4 linked regions of the Homo sapiens genome follow. The protein of the gene in region 1 interacts with the protein of each later gene in a biochemical or structural test. Each region holds a gene or a part of one and is shown on either strand. Other genes may lie near its edges.

Evidence for each region.
Region 2: of the proteins of MAP2K4 (region 1) and MAP3K11, one has a biochemical effect on the other in vitro, tested with the Homo sapiens proteins (one study listed by BioGRID).
Region 3: of the proteins of MAP2K4 (region 1) and MAP3K10, one has a biochemical effect on the other in vitro, tested with the Homo sapiens proteins (one study listed by BioGRID).
Region 4: the proteins of MAP2K4 (region 1) and ARRB1 interact in a test that uses a peptide from one of them, tested with the Homo sapiens proteins (one study listed by BioGRID and IntAct).

The regions. Positions count from the first base shown.
Region 1 is NC_000017.11:12,023,877-12,030,906, forward strand, and holds part of MAP2K4 (dual specificity mitogen-activated protein kinase kinase 4), read left to right. Parts: intron 1-7,030. UniProt on the Homo sapiens protein: Dual specificity protein kinase which acts as an essential component of the MAP kinase signal transduction pathway. Essential component of the stress-activated protein kinase/c-Jun N-terminal kinase (SAP/JNK) signaling pathway.
Region 2 is NC_000011.10:65,597,243-65,604,237, forward strand, and holds the end of MAP3K11 (mitogen-activated protein kinase kinase kinase 11), read right to left. Parts: intron 2,527-6,995; coding exon 2,152-2,526; intron 1,387-2,151; coding exon 1,049-1,386; 3' UTR 515-1,048; downstream 1-514. UniProt on the Homo sapiens protein: Activates the JUN N-terminal pathway. Required for serum-stimulated cell proliferation and for mitogen and cytokine activation of MAPK14 (p38), MAPK3 (ERK) and MAPK8 (JNK1) through phosphorylation and activation of MAP2K4/MKK4 and MAP2K7/MKK7.
Region 3 is NC_000019.10:40,186,856-40,194,430, forward strand, and holds the start of MAP3K10 (mitogen-activated protein kinase kinase kinase 10), read left to right. Parts: upstream 1-4,570; 5' UTR 4,571-5,176; coding exon 5,177-5,858; intron 5,859-7,575. UniProt on the Homo sapiens protein: Activates the JUN N-terminal pathway.
Region 4 is NC_000011.10:75,259,610-75,264,679, forward strand, and holds the end of ARRB1 (beta-arrestin-1), read right to left. Parts: 3' UTR 513-5,070; downstream 1-512. UniProt on the Homo sapiens protein: Functions in regulating agonist-mediated G-protein coupled receptor (GPCR) signaling by mediating both receptor desensitization and resensitization processes.

The sequences.
Region 1 (7,030 bases):
TGAGAATGCATGTAAGCCTGGGACCTGACATGTAGTAAGGATGCAATACACATTAGCCATCATTGTTAGTAGCGACAATATTGTTATGGTCTCATTAATGGTCCCTTTTACTATTGGTAAATGAGTCCCTAACCTCTCATTATTTACCACACAATTTCTTTAGTTCATATTACTAGGTCCCACTGTTCTCTCTAACCTGTTGATTTCCCCACTTTTCATTATTGAGCAGTCCTTTCAGAGTATCCTAGATGAGATTTTATTCTACTTCAAACTCCGGATCTGTTTTTTTCTGGATCTGAGGACTCTCAAATGAATTACAATGTGAACGATATGAAACAGAAGTCTAGCTATCAATTTGCTCTACTCATTTTTTTCATAGGGGATGGGTAGATGGTTGGAATGGGATTTATAGTGAATTTGATTATAAGAGTAATCAACAGACGTAGCTTTGGTTGCATGTTTATGCTAACAGTTATGGCTTCTAATCTGGCCATTTTTGCCACTGTCCCTCAGATAATAGGGAATAGCTGCTAATTTTGTTATTACTCAAAAGATTTGAGTGTCTTCACTCATTCTGACTCATTTTTTTTTCATGTTCATTCACAAACACACCCAACCTTTATACGTTGAGTAGTTCTTAGGCTTTGGTTCTTTGATGACTAAAGCTAACAAAATGTAGATCTGTTTGCCAAGTTAGGTAAGTGGTTTTATGAAAGTATATTTGGCATTAGGATGAGTTTGCATTTGAGAGAGGAAACAATACTCAAATTAACTACTCTGAGAAATGTTTTTATTCTTAATGTTTCATCAATAATTTGTTAATGTAGATAGATTTAATAGGAAAATTTCTTGCATATTAGGGCCTCATTCTGTGGAAAAGTATTATTCTTTAGTCCAAGAAATTTTAGCCAACCTAAAGTACGGAATTGACTTGTAGCATTCAAGAACCTTCCTAGCCATGGCTAGGGCTTTCCCTTGTGGCAAATCTAAAGCCTCGTGACTTTAGCTGGGTTAGTGTGAATCCTGTAAAGAGAAGATCCCGTTATACCAGGTAATTAATCTTAGATATGTATAGCAAATAGTACTAGATAGTATGGTTGGCATGTTAGAGAATAGCATATTCTGATTAATAGAGCTTGCCAGTTGAGAATTCAACAGCTTCTATAATGAAATTGCATAGGCAGGATGATTCCTTTTCCAGTAGTAGCTGTAGCAGCTAGCGTTCCCATAGCATGTAGTAATGTTTAAGAAACAAAAGGATGTTGAAGTGTAAAGAGCACTGGACTTAGACTCAGAAAACCATGGTTAAGGTAACTGCTCTGCTGTTTACAAACACTGAGATTTTAGGGAAATTCCCTAACTTTTCTCAACTCTCTGTTCAGAAATTTCTCATCTGTTAAAATAGGGATAATGCCTAACCTGTAGGGCCATTGTAAGAATCACATTCTTAATGCATGTGAAAGTGCTTTGAAAATTATAGAATATCTATAAGTATATACAGATTGTTATTAGACATGATTATTTGCCTGCTGTAGCTACTAATCACTTAAAATGTAATAGATTTCAAAGATCGCTTAGCTGAGAAATGTCAGTTTTCAATAGATGTTTTCTTAAAATGGTTAGAATAGAATCTATAATTGATTCAGAAAAACATTGAGCCATTTGTAAAATACTTGTTACAAGAAATAGTTAGAAAGTATATGTTGTAGGTGCCTCTGATTCTCTTAAAGTTCTGATTTACAGAAAACTTTGTGACCAGTCGAGTCCTTAGCTATTTACCCTTAGCTGAGCATTTTTATGTATCAGTTTAAGTAGAAAGATGATAGCTTGATTCTGCTTTAGAAAACACGCCCAGTACTTTAAAATGTAATGAAGTATATCTGTTAAGAAAAAGTCAAGAGATTTAAAATCAATGTAGTTATTTCTCCCAAAAATATTTGAATATAAAATGTATATGAAATGTCCTGCTTTTGATTTTGTTTATCTGTTTTTACTAATTAGTCTGGTTTTCGAGAACCATGGGAGACCTTTATCTTAATTTTAAAGAACTGATTTGTGCAGACAGTGAAGAGTTTCAAACCCCAGAACTGCTTGCCCTTCCCAGTGTGTTGCATAACATTTCTTTTACTGTTTAACATAACCTCATACAAGTTCACCTCAGCAAATTAGTCCCCCCTCAAAGCTCAGACTGCATTTCTTCTTATGTTCCCTTAAAAATTAGAGCAACCCTAGTATTAAAGTAAAAAAGTGGAAAAACATCTCACCTCACTTTTAGAATACATATTTTCTCACATTTTCCTTTAAAATACCTTACTAGCCTGAATGTGTGCTGAAACTTGTTTAAGATGGGATATTAGTTAACCCTGTATTTTGAGTCGTTTTCTTTTTTCGTAAATTTTTCTTCTTTCACTAATTTGAGAAGCTGGATTGATGTGAGCCCATAGAGTTTCCTTATTTTTAGGGGTCTGGATATCATAATCCTAACTCCATTCTACATAATCGAGGTCAGTCTCCTTTGTAGTCTCTAGGAAGTGCAGATGGCTCCAATGATACAACCTGAGAAACTTTAATTGAGGCTTAAAAAAGAAAGGGAAAGTAACAGTTAACAACTTTTTTCACTGTTCCTACCTAATTTGATGCTCACAACCACCCTTTAAAGGTAAGTGGACATAGTCCCCTTCATAGATGAGGGGGTAGACGTTTATTTGTTCCGGAAGAGGTAGGTTTTAACCACCTGGGTGACTGGTAGCCTTTGCTCCTCTTACTACTCTACTGCATGGTTCTCTGAGCCTCTTTAAGTCATTTCGGCCATTCAGGTCTGAAGGAAGCATCTTTGCCAGAAGTGATGCAGATTCAGGAATGGAGGAGAGAGATTATTTTAGGTTTCAGTCAGGGGGCGGAAGCTCCAAGCAACCAGCCACCTTTTGAGATGATTTTGGAGCCTTGGTGCTCCAAGAATGGTGCACTTCATGTTACAATGTTCTAAACTTGCTGGAGGGTTTACAGTGGCATTTTGAATCTGGAGACATTTCGATTGGGAATCTCCAAGTAAGTAGAAGACTTTAATTAGAGGAAACCATTGCAGATTTGAAAGGTAATAGAATCCTTTTAACACTATATATAAAAGGAACTCATTTGTCATAAAATTTAACAAATGTTGTCGTTCTGGCTAAATTTGTAATCTGGGCAAATTACTATTTTTGCTAGTGGATGTGGGTTAGCTTCTAGCTGTTTCCTCCCAACTCTAGAAAATCTTCAGGTGTCTCTTCATGCTCGGTAAGGTTGGGAGTTTAATGTGTACTTAAATTAATAGAAAGTATTCAAGTCGTAAGACTGGCCTTGCTTGTAGCTACACAGTGAAAGGGAGATGATTAGCCAGTAGTTTACACAACTCAAGGTGGGCCTTTTGAATGAAGAAAACAATTACATTGTATGCAGCTTGGTTCTTTAAGAACAACACATTATTCTCCACCACGGAGAAAGAGGATTAAAATGGACATCACAGCAGCTTTTTCGAGCTATATTGTATTTCATTTTACCCAAAATTGCTCAAACATTGAAAAACGAGGAATCAAGAAAAGTGTTGCCAGACATATATATCTGAACATACACACACACACACAGACACCAAATTGTTCAAACATTTAAAAAAAGAGGAATCAAGCAAAGTGTTACCAGACATATATATCTGAGATATATATATGTCAGATGTATATATATCTGACATGCCTATGTCTATTTATTGCCTGGCTTTGCTGAAGAAATCAGTGACATTAAGGAGCTCCCCTGATGATTTTGGCAGTTTCCCTGGGATCTGGTTATGTGCCTGTCATGGGGAAGCATCCATCTTTTTGGGGTTGTTAGAGTCCTCAGGATACCAGGCTGTGCCTAGGAAGGGTTGTGGCAGAGGTGTAGAGGGTGGGGTGTGGATCTCCAGGGCTGTTTGGAGTCCTTCCCTTTTAATTCTCTCAAGGTGACTGTGAATGAAAGGAGAAAGACTGGTTTTGTGTAGGTTAAGCTGGTCTGGTGAGCACCAGAAAGATAGGGAAGGTGCCATAATCGTTGCTCCCATGAGGGAGAGAACAGGAATAATAGTGCCTGTGATAATAATAACCTGCTTTAGTCCAGGCTTTTGGTTGGACATTTTAGATATATTTTCCCATTTAATCATCACAAAGCTCTTTTGGGTATTATTTTATTTTTCACAAATGAGGAAATTGAGGCTCATAGAAGTTAGATACTTGCCCGAAGGAACATAATTGTAAGTTACTGTCTCAGTGTACTGTGCTTCATTAAACAGGCTTGAGAAGGTAATGTGGCATTTAATTTTGTGGCCAAAGAATAAATAAGGTGGTCATTGCCCAAAGAGAGAAAAAGAGCTGGCATTATGAGGACACTTGAATTTAAAAAGTGTGGAAGGGATTTGATGAGTATTTTATCAACTCCTGACTGGTGGATGATTCTAACAACCTGGAATTGCTAACTTAGGGTGGCTCCCTTTTGATAGTTTCAGAAAGTTGACATAAGGAAATCTGAAAGAAATAAACCATCAGGAAATAAATCTTGGGGAACTTGCTCTGAGTACAATGAAAATACAAATTTAGGGTAGGTTTAGATAACGCCTTACATGTTAGAGCCATAATGATATACTATGGGTAGCTGTGGTTTAAGGCACATGCCAGAATTTTGAAGTTGGAAGTTTGAAGGTGTCAGACAAATAGACCCTTCATGCTTGTGACAGAGGAAAGACTTTGTAGCACGGTCTTATGGGCATGACCCAGTAAGGCAGCTCTGATTTTCTTTACATTAGTGTGGGTTCATATTGTAGTTCATAATGCACTTTCAGCAGTGCAAAAATCCAGAATGTCCAGGGAATCAGAAGCAACTACTGAGGAGATAGGAAACCACTTATGTCCGGCCCCACACCCTCTCTGATTTATATTATCAACCTAGAGGAATGGGAATGGAGATAACTACAAAACCTCATAATGGCCATTACACAAGCAAAATTAGATTTAGGCACACTGTTTTCAAACCCTTAAGATAATATTCTTTATTTAAAAATGACAAAACTAGGACTCAAGTGAAATGACTTCAGTTTCACAGTTGGAACTAGAACTCTGGTCTCCTAACACACTTCATTTTGTTTTTTACTTTATCGAACACCATTTGCTTTTTGTTTTTATAAACACTTACACATCCTAAACAGCCGCTTACCTCACTGTATTTGGTAAGAACAGTAAATTGTAGGTTTCAAGTTATGGCCACATAAAAGATCTTAAAATTGAGGTAAGAGGGTGAGAATGAGGGGCAAATGTGGGAACGAGGGTAGGAGATACGTAGAGAGAAAAAGGAGGAGGAAAAACCCTCATGTAGCTTTATTTCTTTTATAGGCTTACTAGCATTCTGTCCTATGCATTTTGATATTGATTCATCAGTGTCAAGAATTAAGAATTTAAATTCTTAAATAAATATTATTCTTGATATTTATTCTAAGATTTAATTAAACTTGCCTGGGGCCAGGAAAAATGAAAAAGACTCAAATTTACCCCTACTTGTAATGGGGAAAATATAAATGGAGGATCATGTCAAATTAAGCCCCAGGGTACAGATAGTTCACCCAGATATAAAAAAGTGAGGCACACACGACTTAAAATGTAACCAGTTAACTATCAACAGGTTCAACGGATTATCTAGTACCTCCAGAGATAGGACTTAAAGTAAGTGAATAGGAAGTCAGAATTTCGGAGACAAGGGAGACTTCAAAAATTGAACATATTGGCCAGGTGAGATGGCTCATGCCTATAATCCCATAACTTTGGGAGGCTGAGGCAGGAGGATTGTTTGAGACTAGCCTGGGCAACATGTTGGGACTCCATCTCTACAAAAACAAAAAACAAAAAACTCCAAAAGTTAGCCAGACATAGTGGCTTGCACCTGCTGAGATGAGAGGATTGCTTGAGCCCAGGAGTTTGAGGCTGCAGTGAGCTATGATCATGCCACTGCACTCCAGCATGAGCGACAGCAAGACCCTGTCTCTAAAAAAAAAAAAGAAAAAAAGAAAAATTGAACATATGTGAGTGAATACTAGTGAATATTATATCATAACTAAGAACTTGCATTTTGTAAAGTTGAGGATATTGGAAGTTTTCCTCATTTTTCCTTCCCACCATCTTTCTCTTGTGCAAGACTGTTGCTTGTCCCCTTTGCCCATCCTTACCCTTTGAGTATGAGCTAGTGGAGCTATTTGGTACTTTCCCAAATCTGCACTATAAGCACTAACTTTCTGACTTTTGCAGGTCTTAAAGATTTAGACAGACTAACTAAAAACGCTTCTTCCCTAATTTAATAATGTTAAGAAAGTTACAGAATTGCTAAAGAAAAGGTGAGCCAGTGTGTTCCAGTTAATTTAGACCTTGCTTGTCAGTGGACTCTGGGCGAGTTACCAAGTATTTTCTTAGTGAGAAATAATGTGGAGAGATGGATGTTTGGATGAGACCCCAGAATTCGTTCACCTGGTCACTTCATAATTAGATACAAAGAACAAGTCTATACTTATGCTTTGAACATTTTAATCCCCTTCCCACCTCCTTTGTAGCTACTTATATAGATTCTGTACTGGTGACAGAATTTCAGGTTTTGAGAATTTTTTAACACTTAAACTGGCGCTTAGCTTTTAATGTGTTAGAGCAATCATTGGCGACATTCTGTCATTCTCAGTCACATATACCTTAAAATTTTTAATATATTATACACTTATTAAGCAATGTAACTTTTTTTAACACAACCTTACATATAGATCCAACTGATTTCTTTTTCATATACCTTACAAATTTGTTTTCTTGCTCCTTTCGCCATCCATATTACTATTTTGTTCACCTCTTCTCTCTCCTTTTCACCTCTTTCTTTTTGCTACCTAGTAACAGTCAATCAGGGTATTTTGCTTTAAAGTTGTTTGTTTCCCAGCCTCCTCTCCAGTTGTAGTAGAAGGTGAGTTTTACCTTCCCTTTTCCAGTGGGATGCGGGGAAG
Region 2 (6,995 bases), on another chromosome or scaffold:
TCTCGGCCTCCCAAAGTGCTGGGATTACAGGCGTGAGCCACCATGCCCGGCCTATGGTTTTTTGTTTTTTTTTTTTTTGAGACGGAGTCTTGCTCTGTTGCCCAGGCTGGAGTGCAGTGGCGTGATTTTGGCTCACTGCAACCTCCACCTTCCAGGTTCAAGCAATTCTCCTGCCTCAGCCTCCAGAGTAGCTGGGACTACAGGCATGCACCACCACACCTGGCTAATTTTTGTATTTTTAGTAGAGATGGGGTTTCACCATGTGGCCAGGTTGAACTCCTGACCTCATGTGATCCGCCGGCCTCGGCCTCCCAAACTGCTGTGATGACAGGAGTGAGCCACTGCACCTGGCCGAGAAGAGCCTTGAATGACTGACCAAGGCTGGTGGATTTGGTCCCAGGAGAGGCATGCAGTACAAGGCATCCAACTGCCTATTGTTGGGGCATCAGGACACCAGGGTTGTATGATAGGTTGGGTCACCTGGTTACCTCCAAGAAAGGTGACAGGCTACATGTGGGGAGACAGCTTTTGAGTTTATTTGGCTTCTGGCTTCACTGGATCCCGAGGCTAAGACTCCAACCCTGGCTGGGGCAGCAGGAAGGCATCCAGAGAGCCCTGGCCCCAGATGACCCCCAGGGCAGGAGGTCCATGCTCTAAGCCCTAGGGCAGGGGCCGCAGTAGCAGGACTTGGTCAAAAGTGCTGGTGACAGCTGAGGCCGGCCCCTCTTCCCTGCACCTCCCCTCCTCCCTGCATCACCCCAGCAGGCAATTCCCTGAGACAGGCTCTGGTCCTCCCAACCAGCTGGGTACAGTGTTGGGCCCCAGTAGGGCAGGTGAGCTGGGGGGACCTACAGGTTTCAGATGTGGGGGCGCAGGTCCCCCTTCCAGTGTGAAGGCTTCCTGTGCAGTGTAGTGTTCCTGACCCCCAAAGGGGGGTGGGGTCCCTGGGGAAACTGAGGCAGCTGCAGAGGCTGACCCAGCTCCTGTTCCAGTGTATGCTGTGACTCCTCCTAAGGCAGCTGGAGCTCGGGGGAGTGGCCTGGCCCACTCAAGGCCCCGCTTCCGGCACCCACGGGGCCTGGGCACCCATGTCTTTGGTCTGTGCCCTGCAGTCCTGGGGGCCCCCCTGGAAGGGGTTGGCAGGTGGGGAGTCCCAGAAGGGGTCTGAGTCCGGGAACAAGGTCCAGGGTGCTCGGCGGGGTGCAGGCTGTGGTGATGGCAGGGGAGAAGGCCGTGGCCCAGCTGACACAAAGCTCCAGGGATCAATGCGGCTGCGAAGGGGCGAGGGCCGAGGTCGGCTGATGAGGCCCAGGGGTGGTGAACGTGGGGTGCCTGGGGTGCCAGGAGCAGAGCGTGATGTCCCCGGTGGGGGTGAGACAGTGCCTCCTGTGAGGATATAGGAGGGGCACAGGGTCAAGCAACCCCCAACTGCTGAGGTCCCCAAGACACTGTCCTGCTCTGGGCCTCAGTTTCCCCATGTGCACAGTGACCTACTTGACTCAACTTCCACCGCCCTTCCTGCTCCGTGGTGCCTCTGTTTTTTGTAATAGTTAGGAGTGAGGCCTCTGCAGCAGGCTGGCCTGGATGTGGATCCCGGCCCTGCCACTTACTAGCTGTGGGAGCTGTGGGTCCCTTAATCTCTGTGCCTTAAATTTCCTCATCTAAAAATGGGCATCCAGGAGCGCTTAGTTCTCTGGTTGTTATGACTAAATGAGACCATCTCGGGAAAGCCTTGCAAACAGTACTTGGCACAAGTAAGGAGCCAGGAGTTTGCTACGATTATGATTACATGTATGCTGTGTCGCCCAGGCTGGAGTCCAGTGTCATGATCACCGCTCACTGCAGCCTCAACCTTTCAAGGCTCACGTGATCCTCCCAGAGTGCTGGGATCACAGGCGTGCACCACTGCCTGGCCCGATTACTTCTTTTATTTCACAGCAGGCATCGCCCCCACCTGCCTGGACCACCTGATAGCTGAACTTAGAACTCTGCTCCCTACATGCGTCTTCAGTACCCCGAATGCCTGGTTCAGGGTCCAGCTGATGACTGTGGTCTCGGCCTTGCCTCCTTGCATGTCCCCACCAGCCACTCCTCCCTCCCTGGGAACCCCCGTCTCCCATATGTGAAGCAGGCCGGCTTCAGGCCACTCACCGCGGGGCTCCTCCTCACGTCGGGGGCTCTTGGCTGACCGCTGGCCCACAGGGATACCCAGGTCCAGCAACAGGGGTGCAGGAGTGGGCGGGGAGTCGGGCGTCTTGAGCGAGAAGCAGATGAGCGGGGAAGGGGGCGGCTCGGTCGGGCAGGGCGCGGGCGTTGGCGTGGGGGGTGTTGTCGGGGACTCCCCGCGCTCGCGTCCTGGGCCTCCCGGCGGCTGCAGGTCGCGGCCAAGGCCCAGCGAGGCGAGCAGGGCGGTGCCGCGCAGCAGCGCCCGCTGGATCAGCTTGGGCGTCCCAGAGCTGCTACCGCGCTCTGCGGGGACAGGCCTCTTGGGCTCCTCGGGCTCCAGGCTAGGCCGCGGGGGGTTACCTGCGGGCAGAGGCGGCACAGGTGAGGGTGTGGCTGGTGCATATTCCGGGTGAGGGCCCAAGACCTCTCCGTGGTCTTGGAACAAGGACTGAGTTCTGCCCTCTACTAGCATCTTCCCTGGTCCCACAGGTCCCATGGCCTCCCCATCACATACCCACATTCTGGCCTTTCACAAGATGGGCACTGGGAGGGGAGGGCAGTGCAGGTGGAGGAAGCGGCAGCAAAGCCCAATGGCAGCCAGCGACCCCAGACCCGAAAGATGGATGGGCAGTCCCAGTGGAGGCAGGCTGGGGCCAGGTCACAGTGGGCCTCTGTGGCCTGCCAGGGGCAACCTCCAGGCCCAGGGGCATGGCAGGTCCCACTGACTGGGACCGGCGCCCTGTGCTCTGTGCCCACCAGCTTCCTGGCTTGGCAGCCCTGCCCCTTCTGCCCACCCACCCCCGCTCCAGCTGTAGCTTATAAGATGCACACAGTCAACTCTAAGGTACATGGCAGCCCTGAGGGCATAAATCCCTGTCTCTATTCTAGAAAGGAGGAAAATGAGGTTCAGAGGGGTCAGTACCTTGCCCAAGGTCACAGCTAATTTACAGAGTATGTATTTGTGCCAGGCCTGAGCTGAATGGCATAGGGGCATTATGTTGTCTGATTCTCATGCCCCAGGGGTTCCAGGCTCAGAGAGGTTGAGGGCTTGTGCGGAGCTGTACAGCCAGTGAAAGGTGGAGCCGGCCTCACCCCAGGCAAGGGCAGTAGAACCTTTGCTCTCCACCATTTCCCAGCCAGACTCTGCCCTAGATTTCAAGACACTAGTGTCCTACCTTCCAGTCTAGGGTTGGCCTGACTCCATTCTAGACCACTTGGGCAGGGATGGGGAACCCCTCATTAAGGACAAGGGACTCTAGGATGGGCTCTCACAAGCCCTGATTTTGTCAGATCCCTCCTTGGCTCTAGAAACTGCTGTGGCTCTCCACTGTCACTAGGAGAAAGTCTGGCCTCCTTGGCTGGTCCTCTGAAGCCCTCCCTGGCCTTGTCCCTCTGCCTTTCCCCTCCTGCCTGGAGTGCAGCAGCAGGTTGGATGTCGGGAGGGAGAAATACAAGGCTGGGAAAAATGAGCTTCTACTATGAACCAGGACTTAGCTCACAGTCCCTTCTGTCAGCCCCAACCCTTACTCAGACTCTCTGCCTCTTACCTCACCCAACTCCCACCCCGGCCACTGCCACTGAAGGGACAAGGGAATCCTTCTAAAATGCAAACCTGTTAAAGACAGGTCTCTGCTTAAAAACTACCCATCACTTCCAGCTTCATTCACTCATTCATTCAATCAACATCTACTGACCCATGTGCCTTGGCCCCTGTCCGCAGCCCCAGTCCTGAGACTCCTCGGCTCTCAACTCTTCTCGGAGTTCAGCCAGGTTGCCTTTTCCTTGGGTATGGTGAGCTGCATGCCTGCGCACACACTATTCACTCTGGGTGGCTGACCTTTCCCACCTTGGCTTTCAGTGACCTCTTATGCACCATCCAAGACCAACTGGGATGTCACTTCCTCTGTGAAGCCCTCCCAGAATCTCCCTGAACCTACACAGTTATTGCTCACGTTATGCCTCATAGAGGTGCTACTGGACTTGTTTATGAGTCTGCCTGCTTCATCATATGAGGTCAGGGCAGTGTTTAACATGTTGATGCCTGGCTCTTAAAATGCAAATCCCTGGGCCAGGCGCGGTGGCTCACATCTGCAATCCCAGCACTTTGGGAGGCCCAGGTGGGATGATCACGAGGTCAGGAGATCGAGACCATCCTGGCTAACACGGTGAAACCCTGTCTCTACTAAAAACACAAAAAATTAGCCAGGCGTGGTGGTGGGCGCCTGTAGTCCCAGATACTCAAGAGGCTGAGGCAGGAGAATGGCATGAACCCAGGAGGCGGAGCTTGCAGTGAGCCAAAATCACACCACTGCACTCCAGCCTGGGCAACAGAGCGAGACTCCGTCTCAAAAAAAAAAAAAAGCAAATTCTTGTTTGATGAAGAATCCATTTTTATAATCCTTGCACCAACCACGAGGTTATCATATCACCCCCACTTCGCAGGTGAAGAACTGATCATTTACAGTGAGTTTAAACAGAAGAGGGGAAATCATGTTTAAAAAAAAGAAAGAGTTGGCCGGGTGCGGTGGCTCACACCTGTAATCCCAGCACTTTGGGAGGCCAAGGTGGGCGGATCACGAGGTCAAGAAATCGAGACCATCCTGGCCAACATGGTGAAACCCTGTCTCTACTAAAAAATACAAAAATTAGCAGGGCATGGTGGCACGCACCTGTAGTCTCAGCTACTTGGGAGGCTGAGGCAGGAGAATCGCTTGAACCCAGGAGGCGGAGGTTACAGTGAGCCGAGATCCCGCCACTGCGCTCCAGCCTGGGTGACAGAGTGAGACTCCATCTCAAAAAAAAAAAAAAAAAAAGCAAGAGAGGCTGGGAGTGGTGGCTCAAGCCTATAATCCCAGCACTTTGGGAGGCCAAGTAGGGCAGATCACTTGAGGTCAGGAGTGCATGACTAGCCTGGCCAACATGGTCAAACCCTGTCTCTACTAAATACAAAAATTAGGCCGGGCATGGTGGTTCACGCTTGTAATCCCAGCACTTTGGGAAGCTGAAGCAGGTGGCTCACTTGAGGTCAGGAGTTCGGGACCAGCCTGGTCAACATGGTGAAACCTCATCTCTACTACAAATACAAACATTAGCCGGGCATTGTGGCACATGCCTGTAATCCCTGCTACTTGGGAGGCTGAGGCAGGAGAATCACTTGAACCTGGGAGGTGGAGGTTGTAGTGAGCCGAGATTGCACCACTGCCCTCCAGCCTGGGCAACAGAATGACACTTCATCTCAAAAAAAAAAAAATTAGCTGGGCATGGTGGCACATGCCTGTAATCCCAGCTACTGGGGAGGCTGAGGGAGAATTGCTTGAACGTGGGAGGTGGAGGCTGAAGTGAGCTGAGGTCGCACCACTGCACTCCAGCCTGGGTGACAGAACAAGACTCCTTCTAAAAAAAAAAAAAGAAAATAGCAAGAGCAAGCTGGGTGTGGTGGCTCACACCTGTAATGCCAGCACTTTGGGAGGCTGGGGTGGGTGGACTACTTAAGCGCAGCCCAGCCTGGGCAACATGGCAAAACCCCATCTCTACAAAAAATATAAAAATTAGCCAAGCATGGCATGCACCTGTAGTCCCTGCTACTCAGGAAGCTGAGGTGGGAGGATCACTTGAGCCTGGGAGGCAGAGTTTGCAGTGAGCCATGATCATGCCATTGCAGTCCAGCCTGGGTAACAGAATGAGACTCTATCTTTAAAAAAATAAAAGACAGAAATGAGACAAAGGGAAGAGAAGATAGGGTCCAGCAGACAAAATGAGAGTGAACAGAAGTTCCTGCAGTCAATGGCCTGAGAAACTGAGGTTCTGAAGGGTAAGGGACTTGGTCAACATAATCCAGCTAGGATTTGAATCTGCCTCTAAGCTTCCTGGCAGCAAGAGTTAGCAACTCTGTTGTTTAGGAGAAAGCTGCGTGACTATTCTTGACCCAAAGATAGATAGATAGAGGCGAAACTGCTTCCGTGAGGTCTCACAGGGAGGACACAGCCACGTAGTTATTGGCTCTAAGGCAACAAGCTTCACAGGGCAGTTGCTATCAGCGTAGCTGAGTGCACCCTGCCAATGTGCCACTCCTTGCAGCCAGCTCTCCAGGGACCAGAACAGCCCACTGGGGACAGGGTGAGGGTGTGTGTGACTCTCCAGTGGTATGGCTTATGCCGGGGACCATCTCACAGGGTCTGGGACCTCTGTGAAGCCCCATTATTTGATTCTTAGCTGGGTTTCGGGGGGTGGCTGTGAGGTCAATGTCATGTACTTTCATGGACCCAGATGATGCGTGGAGTGTGGGATTGGGCTAGGGGAACCAGATGCTCAGCCAGCCACTGAGCTGGGCAGCTGACATCCTTTCAGGGCAAGTGGCAATCCATTTCTTCATCAGCCAGGAAGGGCACTGGTGTTGAGGCCGACATACTTATCAAGAACAGTAACTACCATGGTTTCCAGTGCTTTCATGAAACCTCAGACATGTGGCCTTCTGGCCACACATCTGCAATTTCATATTGTGGGAGCATTCACTGTATCCCTGGGGGCTGCGGCTCTCTCAGTTTGCAGGGGCTGGACCAAGAAAGAAGGCATTTCAGATTTCTATGGGCACAGATGTCTACAGAAGTTATGATGCCATGAAATACTTCGAGGAGATGAGGAAGGCTGCTATCTCTCAGAATGCAAAGTGATTTTGGAATATGAAGAATTTCTTTGGGTTGAATTACTTAGAAGTTTGTCACTGATCTGAACTATTCATGAATATATGGGCTAATAAGTAGTTTCTCTTCATAAATAATTAACAAATTCTTTGGATAAAAAAACATGGGGCAAGCTTGAGAACGATGGGG
Region 3 (7,575 bases), on another chromosome or scaffold:
AATATCAGTTATGCAAGATGAATAAGTTCTAGAGATCTAATGTACAATGACACGACTATCGTTAATAAGATTTTATTGTATACTTGAAATTTGTTATAAGGGTAGGTCTTAAGTGTTCTCACCACAAAAAAAAAAAAAAGCTCCCCAACTCATTGAATAGGGCTAGCATTCCGCCAATGTCAAAACTAGGCAAGAATAACACCAGAAAATTCCATTTATGAAAACAAATGCAGGCCAGGCACAGTGGCTCATGCCTGTAATCCCAGCACCTTGGGAGGCCAAGGCAGGTGGATTCCTTGAGGCCAGGATTTGGAGACCACTCCGGCCAACATGGCAAAACCCCATGTCTACTAAAAATGTAACAATTAGCTGGGCACAGTGGCATGCGCCTATAGTCTCAGCTCTGGAGGCTGAGGTGGGAGAATCGCTTGAACCCAGGAGGTGGGTGAGCTGAGATATCACCACTGCACTATAGCCTGGATGACACAGCAAGGCTGTCTCAAAAAAAAAAAAAAAAGAAAAGAAAAGAAAAGAAATGCAAAACAACCCTAAATAAAGTATTATTAAATCAAATCCAGCAATGGTGAAAGCAAGAAAGAGGAGATAATCAACATTAATGGATTAAAGGCAGAAAAACCATCTGATTGCATAAATAAATGCATAAAAAGCATTTGATAAAATGTAACACCTGCATTTAAAAAAGAAAGAAAGAAAGAAAGAAAGAAAAATCTCTAGCAAGTTAGGAATAGAACCTGATAAAGGACTTCTACTAGAAATCTACTGAAAGCATCATATTTAATGATGAAACCTTAGGATCATTCCCTTAAATGTCTAGGACAAGACAAGAATTGTCCATTAATACCACTGCCATTCAACATTGTATTGGAACTCCTAGCCAAAGAGGAGAGGATTAAGAAAAAAAGCATAGACATCAGATTTTTTAAAGCTGTAATTTTTTTCTTTTTTCTGGACAACAGGATCATCTAGCTAGAAAATCGAAGAGAATTATCTGTCAAGCTATTCTAGAACAAGCAAGAGTGAGTTCAACAAGGCAGCCAAATCCAAGATAATTTTTTTTCTTTTTTTTTTTGAGATGGAGTCTCACTCTGTCACCAGGCTGGAGTGCAGTGGCGCAATCTCGGCTCACTGCAACCTCTGCCACCCGGTTCAAGCGATTCCCCTGCCTCAGCCTCCCGAGCAGCTGGGATTACAGGTGACTGCCACCATGCCCTGACTAAATTTGTATTTTTAGTAGAGACAGGGTTTCACCATGTTGGCCAGGCTGGTCTTGAACTCCTGACCTTGTGATCCACCCGCCTTGGCCTCCCAAAGTGCTGGGATTACAGGCGTGAGCCACCGCACCGGGCCCAGAGACAACCTGTTCTGCAGCCCATTTGCTTCTTCCAGAGTCTCCCTCTGTCGTCCGGGCTAGAGTACACTGGCTCGATCTCGGCTCACTGCAACCTCCGCCTCCCAGGTTCAAGCGATTCTCCTGCCTCAGCCTCCTGAGTAGCTGAGATTACAGGCACCTGCCACCACGCCTGGCTAATTTTTGTATTTTTAGTAGAGATGAGGTTTCACCATGTTGTCCAGGCTGGTCTCAAACTCCTGACCTCAGGTGATTTGCCTGCCTCAGCCTCCCAAAGTGCTGCGATTACAGGTGTGTGAGCCACCGCCCCCACCCTCTATTTGCTTCTTTGAGATGAATCACCCCATAAATGATTGGTAAACAGAGTAATGATGTCAGCATAACACAAGCATGTTGGTTAACATGCAATTTTCTCCAGGAAGTTAACATTTTGAAGCAATCAGGGCCAAGCTTTCTCACAGTTAAAGGGGAAGCCTTAGTACTAAAAGAAGATCTTCAGAGGAAAAAGCTGCAAATCTACAGAAGTGTCTTCCTTTGGATCCACGGTGGCTGGTTTAGTGACTTCAAAGACCACCATATTTGTCACAGTGTTATGCCTATGGCAAATCCATGAATGCAGATGAAGAAATTGCAAATATATTTCTCCCATATTAAAATAACAGATTAATGAAAAAGATCACACCTTGGATCACATTTCGAGTTTTGATGAAAATGATCCCCATCAATAGTTAATATCTCCAACCAGCATCCCCAAAGAGGAAGCATAAGCCCCACCTTCAAGGCTGCAAAGTGCTGCTGAAAGCAAATGCTCATGGAAATTTACCTATTCTAGTGTTTCTATTAGCATCATTATTGGTTTTGTAGCACTCTGAATATAAAGTTGTATACAAGAGGCCGGGCATGGTGCCTCACACCTGTAATCCCAGCACTTTGAGAGGCCAAGGCGGGCGGATCACGAGGTCAGGAGATCGAGACTATCCTGGCCAACATGGTGAAACCCTGTCTCTACTAAAAATACAAAAATTAGCTGGGCATGGTGGCGCCCACCTGTAATTCCAACTACTCGGAAGGCTGAAGCAGGAGAATCACTTGAACCAGGGAGTCGGAGGTTGTGGTATGCCAAGACCGTGCCACTGCACTCCAGCCTGGCAACAGAGTGAGACTCCATCTCAAAAAAAAAAAAAGTTGTATACAGGTTTTTATTTTTACTTTTTTTTTTTTGAGTCAGGGTCTCGCTCTGTCTCTCAGGCTGGAGTGCAGTCAGTGCCACAATCACAGCTCACAGTAGCCTCGACCTCCTGGGCTCAGGTAATACCCCTATACCTCAGTCTCCCGAGTAGCTGGGAACACAGGTGCACACCACCACACCCGCCTAATTTTTTATTTTTTTGTAGAGACGGAGTCTCCCTATGTTGCCCAGGCTAGTCTGAAACTCCTGGACTCCAGTAATTCTCCCTCCTCGGCCTCTGAAAGTGCTGGGATTACAGGCATGAGCCACCGTGCCCAGCTAGTTGCATATATTTTGAGCAATCTGTCTCTAACTCTATTTTTTCCATGAAGTCTTGTTAATTTTAGTGCACCGTTTTGAAGAACTGAAGGTTTTTTAAGAATGCATATAGCAGGTTATAGCAGAAACACTTATACTCAGAATGAAGCTGGGGCTCTCTCTTCCAACAAGCATTTTTGATATGCTCCGAGTGTCCCTGCTAGGTAGCCAGGAGACCAGGTAACCCACTTCCCTCTGACAATGGAACAATTCCCCAAGGACCCTGAGGGGCAGTTCTCTGGAGTTTGGGCACTAGAGTCCCTCTTATTTCCTCTTCTTCTCTCCTCCCTCTAGACCCCATACCACTCAGGAGAGGCCAAGTAAAAAGACCCAGAATTTTGCCTCTTACAAGCTTAGAGATCTTGAAGAAGTCACTGAACCTCTGCGGGACCTACTTTCCTCATTCTTTAAATAGAAAGGCAGTGGGTTTTTTGTTTGTTTGTTTTTTGTTGTTTTTTTTTTTGTTGTTGTTGTTTTTGTTAATCGTGGCGATGGTTATTTATTTATTTATTTATTTTGAGACGGAGTCTTGCCCTGTCGTCCAGGCTGGAGTGCTGTGGCGTGATCTTGGCTCACTGCAACCTCCACCTCCCAGGTTCAAGCGATTCTCCTGCCTCAGCCTCCCGAGTAGCTGGGATAGATTACAGGCGCACACCACCACGCCCGGCTAATTTTTTTTTTTTTTTTTAAATAGTAGAGACGGGGGTTTCACCATGCTGGCCAGGCTGGTCACGAACTCCTGGCCTCGTGATCCGCCCGCCTTGGCCTCCCATAGCGCTGAGATTACAGGCGTGAGCCACCGCGCCCGGCCTGGTTGTTAATTTTTAAAACTGCCTTTCATTTTTGCTTTGCCATTTATAGCTCTGTAGCCTTGCACAAATGACTTCACTTCTCTATGAGTCATCTGTAAAATGGGGCTCTTTGTGAAGACTTAACGATACCACGTGTACAAAGCACTGAATACAACATGCACATTAAGCTCCCCGAAATTGAAACTCCTATAAAATAGGAATCGGGGATTCTCAAGAGCAGGAGTTCTGACTTCAGCAGAGGAACCCAGAGCTGGTGGGGAAAGCAGACGTGGCTGTGACATCCCCAGGGACACTAAACACATCCTCCCAGCCCCATCTTCCCCGCAGAGTCCCGCCACCGGCCCGACCCCTAACTTGCTCCAACCACCCGCCGACGCCCGCAGCCCGCTGTTTGGGGGCCGCCCCCTGCAGCGCCAGGTCCCCGCGCGGACTACAGTTCCCAGCGTACATCTCGGTCGGGGGGTCCGAGGGGCCGTCCTGCCTCAGGGATAAGGTCCAGGCTGCGTTCGCGGCTCCGGGCAGTCACAGTCATGCACGCAGCTCCTATTTTTCGCGTTGCTAATCGCGTCCGTTGCAGTCCAACCCATCCTGGGCCGCGGCCCCCACAGGGTCTGTGAGGAGCGCTTCCCCCCGCCCCGGGCGCCCGCTACGCCGCGTCCGAAGGAGGGGCCGAGGCCGGGCTCATCTCCCCGGGAGGACTCCTTCGGCTTCGTGGGGTGTCATGTCCATTGCGGCCCGAGGCTGGCCGCGGGGCTCTGCTGGAGGGCGCTGAGAGCCGGGCCCCGAGGCCGCACGGCCGGAGACTACAACTCCCAGGAGGCACCGCGGCGGCGGCGCCCACACGTCACTCGGGCCCCGCCGGTGGCCCGGGGAAGCAGCACGGGCGGGGGGCAGGGGCTGGGGCCGACCGGGAGGCCGGTGCCAAGGATGGGGGCCGCCCGGCTGCCCCGCGCGTGAGGAGGCCGAGGGGCGCGCCACCCCGGCCCGGGGCGGCCGCCCCAGGGGCCCCGCCACCCCCGCCCGGCCCGGCAGTCGTGGCCCGGGATGCGGAGCCGGGGGCCGCCGGTGGAGCTGCGCGGGGTGAGCGGCGCGGGGAACGGGGACTGCCTGCCGCCCTCGCCCTCGTCCCCCACCGGCGGACCCCGGCGGGCATTCGAGAGCCGCGCGGCCAGGCCCTCTTAGCCCTCTGCCGTTTGGGGGGCACGGGTGAACCTGCCGCCCCACTCCCACCCCGCCCCGCCCCGCCCGTACAGCCAAATCGGAAGGGACGAGCCTGCCCTTTGAAAGGGTTTTTTTTCTTGCTCCTGCGGAGGGCGCCCCAGCCATGGCCCTCAGGAGCTCCCTAGACCCCGCAGGGACTGCCCTCCATCCCGGCCGCCGGGGCCCGCCCTCTGCATCCCGCGGGCAGCCTGTGTGAAGCGGCCTCCCGCAGCCCCCGGCCCCTCCCCCATGGAGGAGGAGGAGGGGGCGGTGGCCAAGGAGTGGGGCACGACCCCCGCGGGGCCCGTCTGGACCGCGGTGTTCGACTACGAGGCGGCGGGCGACGAGGAGCTGACCCTGCGGAGGGGCGATCGCGTCCAGGTGCTTTCCCAAGACTGTGCGGTGTCCGGCGACGAGGGCTGGTGGACCGGGCAGCTCCCCAGCGGCCGCGTGGGCGTCTTCCCCAGCAACTACGTGGCCCCCGGCGCCCCCGCTGCACCCGCGGGCCTCCAGCTGCCCCAGGAGATCCCCTTCCACGAGCTGCAGCTAGAGGAGATCATCGGTGTGGGGGGCTTTGGCAAGGTCTATCGGGCCCTGTGGCGTGGCGAGGAGGTGGCAGTCAAGGCCGCCCGGCTGGACCCTGAGAAGGACCCGGCAGTGACAGCGGAGCAGGTGTGCCAGGAAGCCCGGCTCTTTGGAGCCCTGCAGCACCCCAACATAATTGCCCTTAGGGGCGCCTGCCTCAACCCCCCACACCTCTGCCTAGTGATGGAGTATGCCCGGGGTGGTGCACTGAGCAGGGTGCTGGCAGGTCGCCGGGTGCCACCTCACGTGCTGGTCAACTGGGCTGTGCAGGTGGCCCGGGGCATGAACTACCTACACAATGATGCCCCTGTGCCCATCATCCACCGGGACCTCAAGTCCATCAACAGTAAGTGGTGTCCTCTCCCCAAAATTCCTTCCACAGAACCTCTCAAGGCCAGGCCTAGGTGGTGGGAAACAGGGTGAGGGACACCAGATGACACTGTGCCTGGAGTGAGAAGGGGCAGCAGTATGATACCTTCAGGGTGAAGGTGAGGTAGGCCTTGCCTGCCTTAAGGGAGAAAAAGGAGGCTCAGAAAGGTTGAAGGACTTACCTGCCTCCCAGGCTGCAGAGTCACAATCGCTCAGTAAACATGTATCCATGAACACCTGCGTTCCCTGCATGAACAGGACAGATGCAGTGCCTGCCTTCAAGGTGCTTGCCATCCAGCCATGCTGCCAGAGTCCACCAGGCAGAGACAAAAAGAGCCTACCCCGTCTGGAGTCAGTGTCTCTCAACCCCAGCACTATTGGCACTTGAGGCCAGATCATTGTTGTAGGGGCTGTCCTGTAAATTGTGAGTTGCTTAGCGGCATCTTTAGCCTCTTCCCACTAGATGTCATTAGCATTCCCTGCCCCCTCTCCCCAGCTATGACAACCAAAAGTGTCTCCAGGCATTGCAAATGTCCCCTGGGGGGCAGAATCACCCCCAGTTGAGAACCATTTCCTGGAGTCTTCATAGGCCGAGCTGGCCAAGGCAAACTGGAAAAGATGAGGGAGGAATTAAATTGATGTGGCTTATATAAAAGCTTCCAGGCTGCCTGATAGGTTCTCCAAAGTTGATTGGTTGGTTGAATAAATAATGGAGCCAGGTAGAAGGGAACATTCTGCAAGACTCATTTCTAGATGGAAGAGCTTCATGTGGTGTCAACAAGTATTAATTGAGCACCTATTAAGCAGGAGCCCAGCTGGGAGTAAGACAGCCATGGTTTCTGCCCTGACAGTACTCACAGGCTAGCAATTTCATTCATTCATTCCACAGATATTTCCAGAGTGCTGTGTGCCAGACCCTGTCCCAGGGATACAGCAAGAAAAAAAAAATCTTACATTCCTGGCTCTCCCATTCGTGCTGTGCCCCATCTCACTCCCTTTCATTTCTTCATTCATTTGTTCATTCTTCCATTTGGTATTTACCAGGCCAGATCATGTGCTAAGCAAAGGCATCAGCAGTGGAGAAGGCCAGCATGTCCCCGGCCCTCACGTCACTCACAGTTAAGCCCCAAAATGTGAAGGTGCCCCCTTTGCTCTCAACACCCACATCTCATCTATTCCTGATTTCTGTCACTTCTACATCTTGAAATTTATTTTAATCCATCCCACTATTTTTAGGAATATATTGCTATTCCCCACCCATAGCAATTGTAAGCCCCTAGAATAGAGGGACTGCATCTTCCTTGCCTCCCAAGCCTGACATTTGTATATCAACAGAGAGCTTGGCTGGGCGCGGTGGCTCACGCCTGTAATCCCAGCACTTTGGGAGGCCGACGTGGGTGCATCACCCGAGGTCAGGAGTTCGAGACCAGCCTGACCAATATGGTGAAACCCCTTCTCTACTAAAAATACAAAAATTAGCTGGGCATGGTGGCATGCATCTGTAATCCCAGCTACTCAGGCTGAGGCAGAAGAATCGCTTGAAACCAGGAGGTGGAGGTTGCAGTGAGCCGAGATTGCACCACTGCACTCCAGCCTGGGTGACAGAGCAAGATTCCATCGCAAAAAAAAAAAGCTAACATGTGACCACGATGTGCCAGAGCTGGTGCTGTGTCTGGGGAACTGATGCTTATGCC
Region 4 (5,070 bases), on another chromosome or scaffold:
TATCTATTAGAACATCGACTCTTCCTCACTGATATCCTTACTCCTCCCATATGTTCTGTTAGACCAGGTGGCACATAAGTCTTTGAAAACTGAAGTGACTTCAGGAAGACCCAGCAGGGCAGGAGATAAGAAGTGAACAAGAACCAGGGCTGGGGCTGGGGTGAGGACTCCCACTGATGTGGTCAGTGGTGCCAAAGATAGAAGATAGGATGGCTTCACCCCAGGAGCAAACCATGGGTCACAAAATCCTGTGGTATCTGAGAGGGATGAGAGGTATGCCAGCTTCCCAAGGCCATAAGGCTGAAAAGTGGCAGAAGAGGGACAGGAGAAAAGTTTTTGGCAGTCTCCAGAAGTTGGTACAAGGACCAGGCTGGAGCTGGGGCCACAGACAAGGGAAGAGAGCACCTCACCCAGTCATGAGCCCCATCTGCCAGTCCAGGGCAGCAGGGAGGCATTTCTTGGTCTTTGACCTGCCATGGGCTTATGAGACAGAAATGAAAGCACAGCCAGCATCCTCTGCCACAAAAGACCTTTAATGGCCTCCTATTTATTGTTCTTTTGTTCATTTGTTAGAGTTGAATGAACTATAATAACTTGTCTGACATAATAAGAATGCCACAGGTATAACAGATAAACCTGGCAGGTGGTCCAGGAATGAGAGTGTCACAAAATAATCACTCAACACAAGGGCCACAGACCTGGAGATTCTTCCCAGCCATCCCTCACTCCTGCCCCAGGACACAACCCATGCAGGCCCCCATTCCATAGGAAGAGGCAGGTCCCACAGTGTCTGTGGCTAGACCTTAACACTGAGCAGAGATGCCCGGGAAGATGGCACTTCCTATGCTCGTTCCCAAGTGCTCTGCTCATCTGCCATGCAGGTCAGGACCATACCCCGAGTTTGTGAGGCACCCACCTCTCATACTCACCACCTCATATGACCACCTATCATACCCACCTCTCCTATGACCCTTGCAATTGTCCCAGTGAGGTGGGAAGAGCCTGGACTAGCCCCATTTTGCACACAGGGAAACTAAGGACACACTCGGACCGAATGTAATACACCCGTGTCATGCGCTTGCTGTGCCCTGAGCTTCACATTTTCACCTAGAATTCCCTGGGGGGTGGGAGTGGGGGACAGGGCAGGCAGGGTTTTGTGCCAAGGGCTGGTCCAGTTCTCACTAAAGTGTCCAGGATTCCTGGGGGAATCCTGCCCTCAAAGGAGGGACTTTTGTCATAAAATCCTCCCTGAGTCTGTCTTTTATGTGAGCCAAGATTTCCATCCATCCGGCGCTGTGTAAAGATGAATTTAACCCTAGCCTCTCTCCTATCACACTGCTTCTCCTGCTGTGTCCCTTGGGCCTAGGCCAGGAAAGTGGGGTGCCAGATAGGGGTGCAGACACAAGTCCTCAGTGGGGGATTGAGCCTGTTTCCTTGCTCCAGAGCTCCCCATGCTTCATGGGCCAATATCAGGGTCACGACCCATCCCCACTGAGCACCAGGTCCCTGTCCAAATCAAACCTTGGCCAGAGCTTCAGGGTGGGTTGGCTAGAAAAACCATCAACTATGTACGTGTGTGTGTGTGTGTGTGTGTGTGTGTGTGTGTGTGTGTATAAATGCTTGTGCCTGGGTCTGTGACCCAAGTTCCAACACAAAGACACTTTGTACTGGAACGCTGGAGCCATTCCAACATGAACAGCAAGAATAGAACCTGTGCTGGCTGGTCTAAGATCAAACCTCGAGATGGTGGTTTGAAGTTCTTCTTCAAAGAAAGCTTGAAAATGAAATCTCAGTAGGCAAGACAGATAAAAGCAGAGTTATTCTGGTGGCGGCGGAAATGGGAGGAGGGCTGGAAACCTATCCTTTGCCTCCACTCCCATCTTCCCACTTTAGCATCCCCTGACAAAGCTCTGTGGAATATCAGGGGTTCCGCAGCACCTGGTTTGAAAACCACTGTGTCAGTGTCTACAAACCATAGGCCCCACGGACCTGTGCTTTGACTTCCCTTTTGGGGTGACGAGTTGGAGTGTGATGGGGGGAGGATGTTTCCCCTTCAACAGGGCGTGTCTTTGAAGCCGCTGTGCAGTGACCCTGTGGGGAAGTGGTAGAGGTGGGGTCCTGCCACTTTCGTCCAGGAGGAATGGCAGAAGAGATGGAGCTGCCTGGGCCAGGAGGAAACACCAAGCCCAGTGCAGGCCGTATAGATGAGGGTTCAGGAGTGTTTTGGTCCTTTTGAGTTTAAAAAATTATAGATATCAGAACAGGCATAGGCCTATGTCCATGAGACCCTATAAGAGTGTAAGACTGGGACCTAACCCCTTCCTCCTGGATGGGTGGAGAGCAACCAGTCCCCAGTGACAGGCAGGAGAGAAGCTGCCGCTCTGGGATGCTGACGCCACTGCATCCGCTGTGGCTCGGCTCTCAGGACAAAAGGCTTGGGTTTTTCCTGGGCCCGAAGCCCTCCCAATGTCACTGAGAAGCTGTGGTGGCTCCAGTTGCTCCTGGAAGAGGCCTTACACTTTGAAGGGAAGGAACAGACAATTTCTATTTCTCCTTGCCCTTAGATTTCTGCGGATGGGTGGTTTCAGCTCCCTGAGCCTGGGGGCTGGTGGCTCTCTTTAACCTGGGTCAGAGCCAAGGCCCCTTGGCCTCTGTGGGGTCTGAGAGATGGGAGATGTGACACCAGGCCTAGGAGGGTCCAAGATGTCCCCCTCCACCAATCACTGACAATATCCAGGTCTTCCCTCTGTGTCCTGGTTGCTGGGACCACTATTTTTGGGCATGATATTCCTGAATTGTATCTAAATTTCCCTCTCAGCTGGGTCATCAAAGCCAAATTGGCTGTATCTCATTCTGGTTGACATCTGCCTAAGTGAGAAGCAGGGCAAGCGATGAAGACTGGTGGGGAGGGCTCCTCCTGCAGCAAACTTTCTGTGTGACCTTGGGCCATCCCTGCAGTGGCAGGGCCACACACATCCAGCCATTTTCAACTTACAGAGCCCTGACCGCTGACTTTCATCTCATCTGGGCCTCATAACAATTCCTGCGTCAGGCAGGGAAGGGATTACAATCCCATTTTACAGTTAGGGAAATTGAGCCCCAGAGGTTGAGTAGCTTGCCCAAGCCCCCCAGGTGGTTGGTGACAGGCAGGACTGAGAGGCGGCATTGGGGACTTCCAGGACAGAGTTCCTTTCACTGCACCATGTAGGAACCAGCTTGTCAGGAACTCTCCCACAGAACCAACAGCCAGGTGAACCCACTCTAGCAGGTCTGAGCTTTGAGGCTGAGGAGAGGTGCAGCCAAATAACTCAGTCCTTATCTTCATGGGGACTGAACTCTTCCCCTGGGTGGAATGCTGAGGAGGTCCCGCTGGCTCTCTGCTCGGTGGGTTTTCACCGGGGCATGCTTTTCCTTCCTGCCCGGACCGGTGTCCACACGCCACCCACAGGGCACACTGCAAAGTCCCAGTGACGGATGGCTTGGCCAGTGCAGGCCCCAAACACTTGGCAGAGAAACCGCCAGTACTGTGGGATGGTGCCTGGGGCCTAGTGAGGCTCCCCCACCCCTAGTTTCACTTCAAGGTATCACCTGGGCAGGCTGACTCCAGAAAGGAAAGGGGCCCTGCAGAGAAGCACTGGCTCGGCCATGTTTGGGGGCTGGGAGGTGGTGCCTGGAGTTGACCAGAAGCTTGGAAACATGACCTGCGGCTTCCTCTCCAGGAAGAGGCTGAAGGAAACACTTTGGCCTGTGTGTCCCTCGAGGCTGCAGCGTATGGCCGTGCAGCAGGGCACCTCTGGCCAAGGGGCAAGGGGTGCTAAAATCCAACCTGTGTGTCACTCCCAAAGCTGTGCGTTCTAGTGTAGGTCTGAATCCACCTGGAAAGGGCACCGTCTTCTAATTCACATCAAGGCACCATAGGGACCAGCAGCCACCAGGAGCCCTGAAGGCAACTGCCCTCTATTACTTATCCCTACAACGTTTCCCTGACCATGGGCTTCCTGAGGACAGGGGCTGGGACTGACCCATCTCTGTGGCTCCAGTACTTGGCATAGAGCTGAGTCATCAGCAAAGGATGGTAGGCTGAATTCAACTAAATTTGGCCATTGCCTTGTGCAGTCCTGGCTCCAGGAGAAAAAAAAAAAAAAAAGATAGTGCTCTGATCCTTCCCTGCAGCTGGAGAAATTTGCTAAATAACACTGGGCTAAACCCAAAAGGGTGAGCGTGATGTTGAGGTGCAGGAGGCTCGGGAAACCAGCCTGACAAACGTTTTCCATGCATGAGTTAGGGATAGGGGAAGAAGTCTGCAGGAAAGAGGTCATCCCAAACACTAAAGGATCTTGTGTCAGCCCCAAAGGTTTCAGAAGACACTGGAGGGCATATGTTTGCCATGCATTGCTCCAGCATTTCATCAGCTCTGCGCCTGCCCAGATGAGGTGCAGCCTGCCCAGCAAGCTCTAGGAGGGGCTGGATGCCTGGGGGACCTGCAACTAGGCCCTCAAGACTGGACAGGGTAGTACGACAGCCCCCAGCTGACTTGGTTCTGGTCTGGGGAGGGGTCCCTTGGGTTGAGTGGTCATGAGACTCAGAAGTCGCGCTGCCAGGCTTGTGAAACAGGTGATTTCACCACAGGAAATAAGTCACACTGCCTGCCCCAGGAGGTGCTGGACTGGAAAGGATTGAGATGCCACTTGTATAAGATTTTTTGTCTCCCTTTTCAGACAAGTATGGGAGAGAGATGGAAGGGAGCAGAAACTGAGGAGAGAGCCCTTGTCCTGCTAATCAATATATTTGCCTGGGTAAACCTCAGGGTGTCTGTGCCCACAGGGGGCTGTGAGGTACTGCAAGCCCTATCATAAGCCCCTCAGCCAAGCCTCAGCAAAGATATGCTCTGTCCCTCCTTGGGCAACTCATGCTACCTATGGCCACAGCCTGACATCAATCCCTTCCCAGTCTTGGGCACAGGGTGGGGTTGAGGGCAGTTGGTGCTCCATAGGGCCCTGCCACCTCTGAGGTCCAATAAATCCCCTCTGGAGGCAGAGAGACCAGTCAGCAGCTCTGGCTCTACCCACC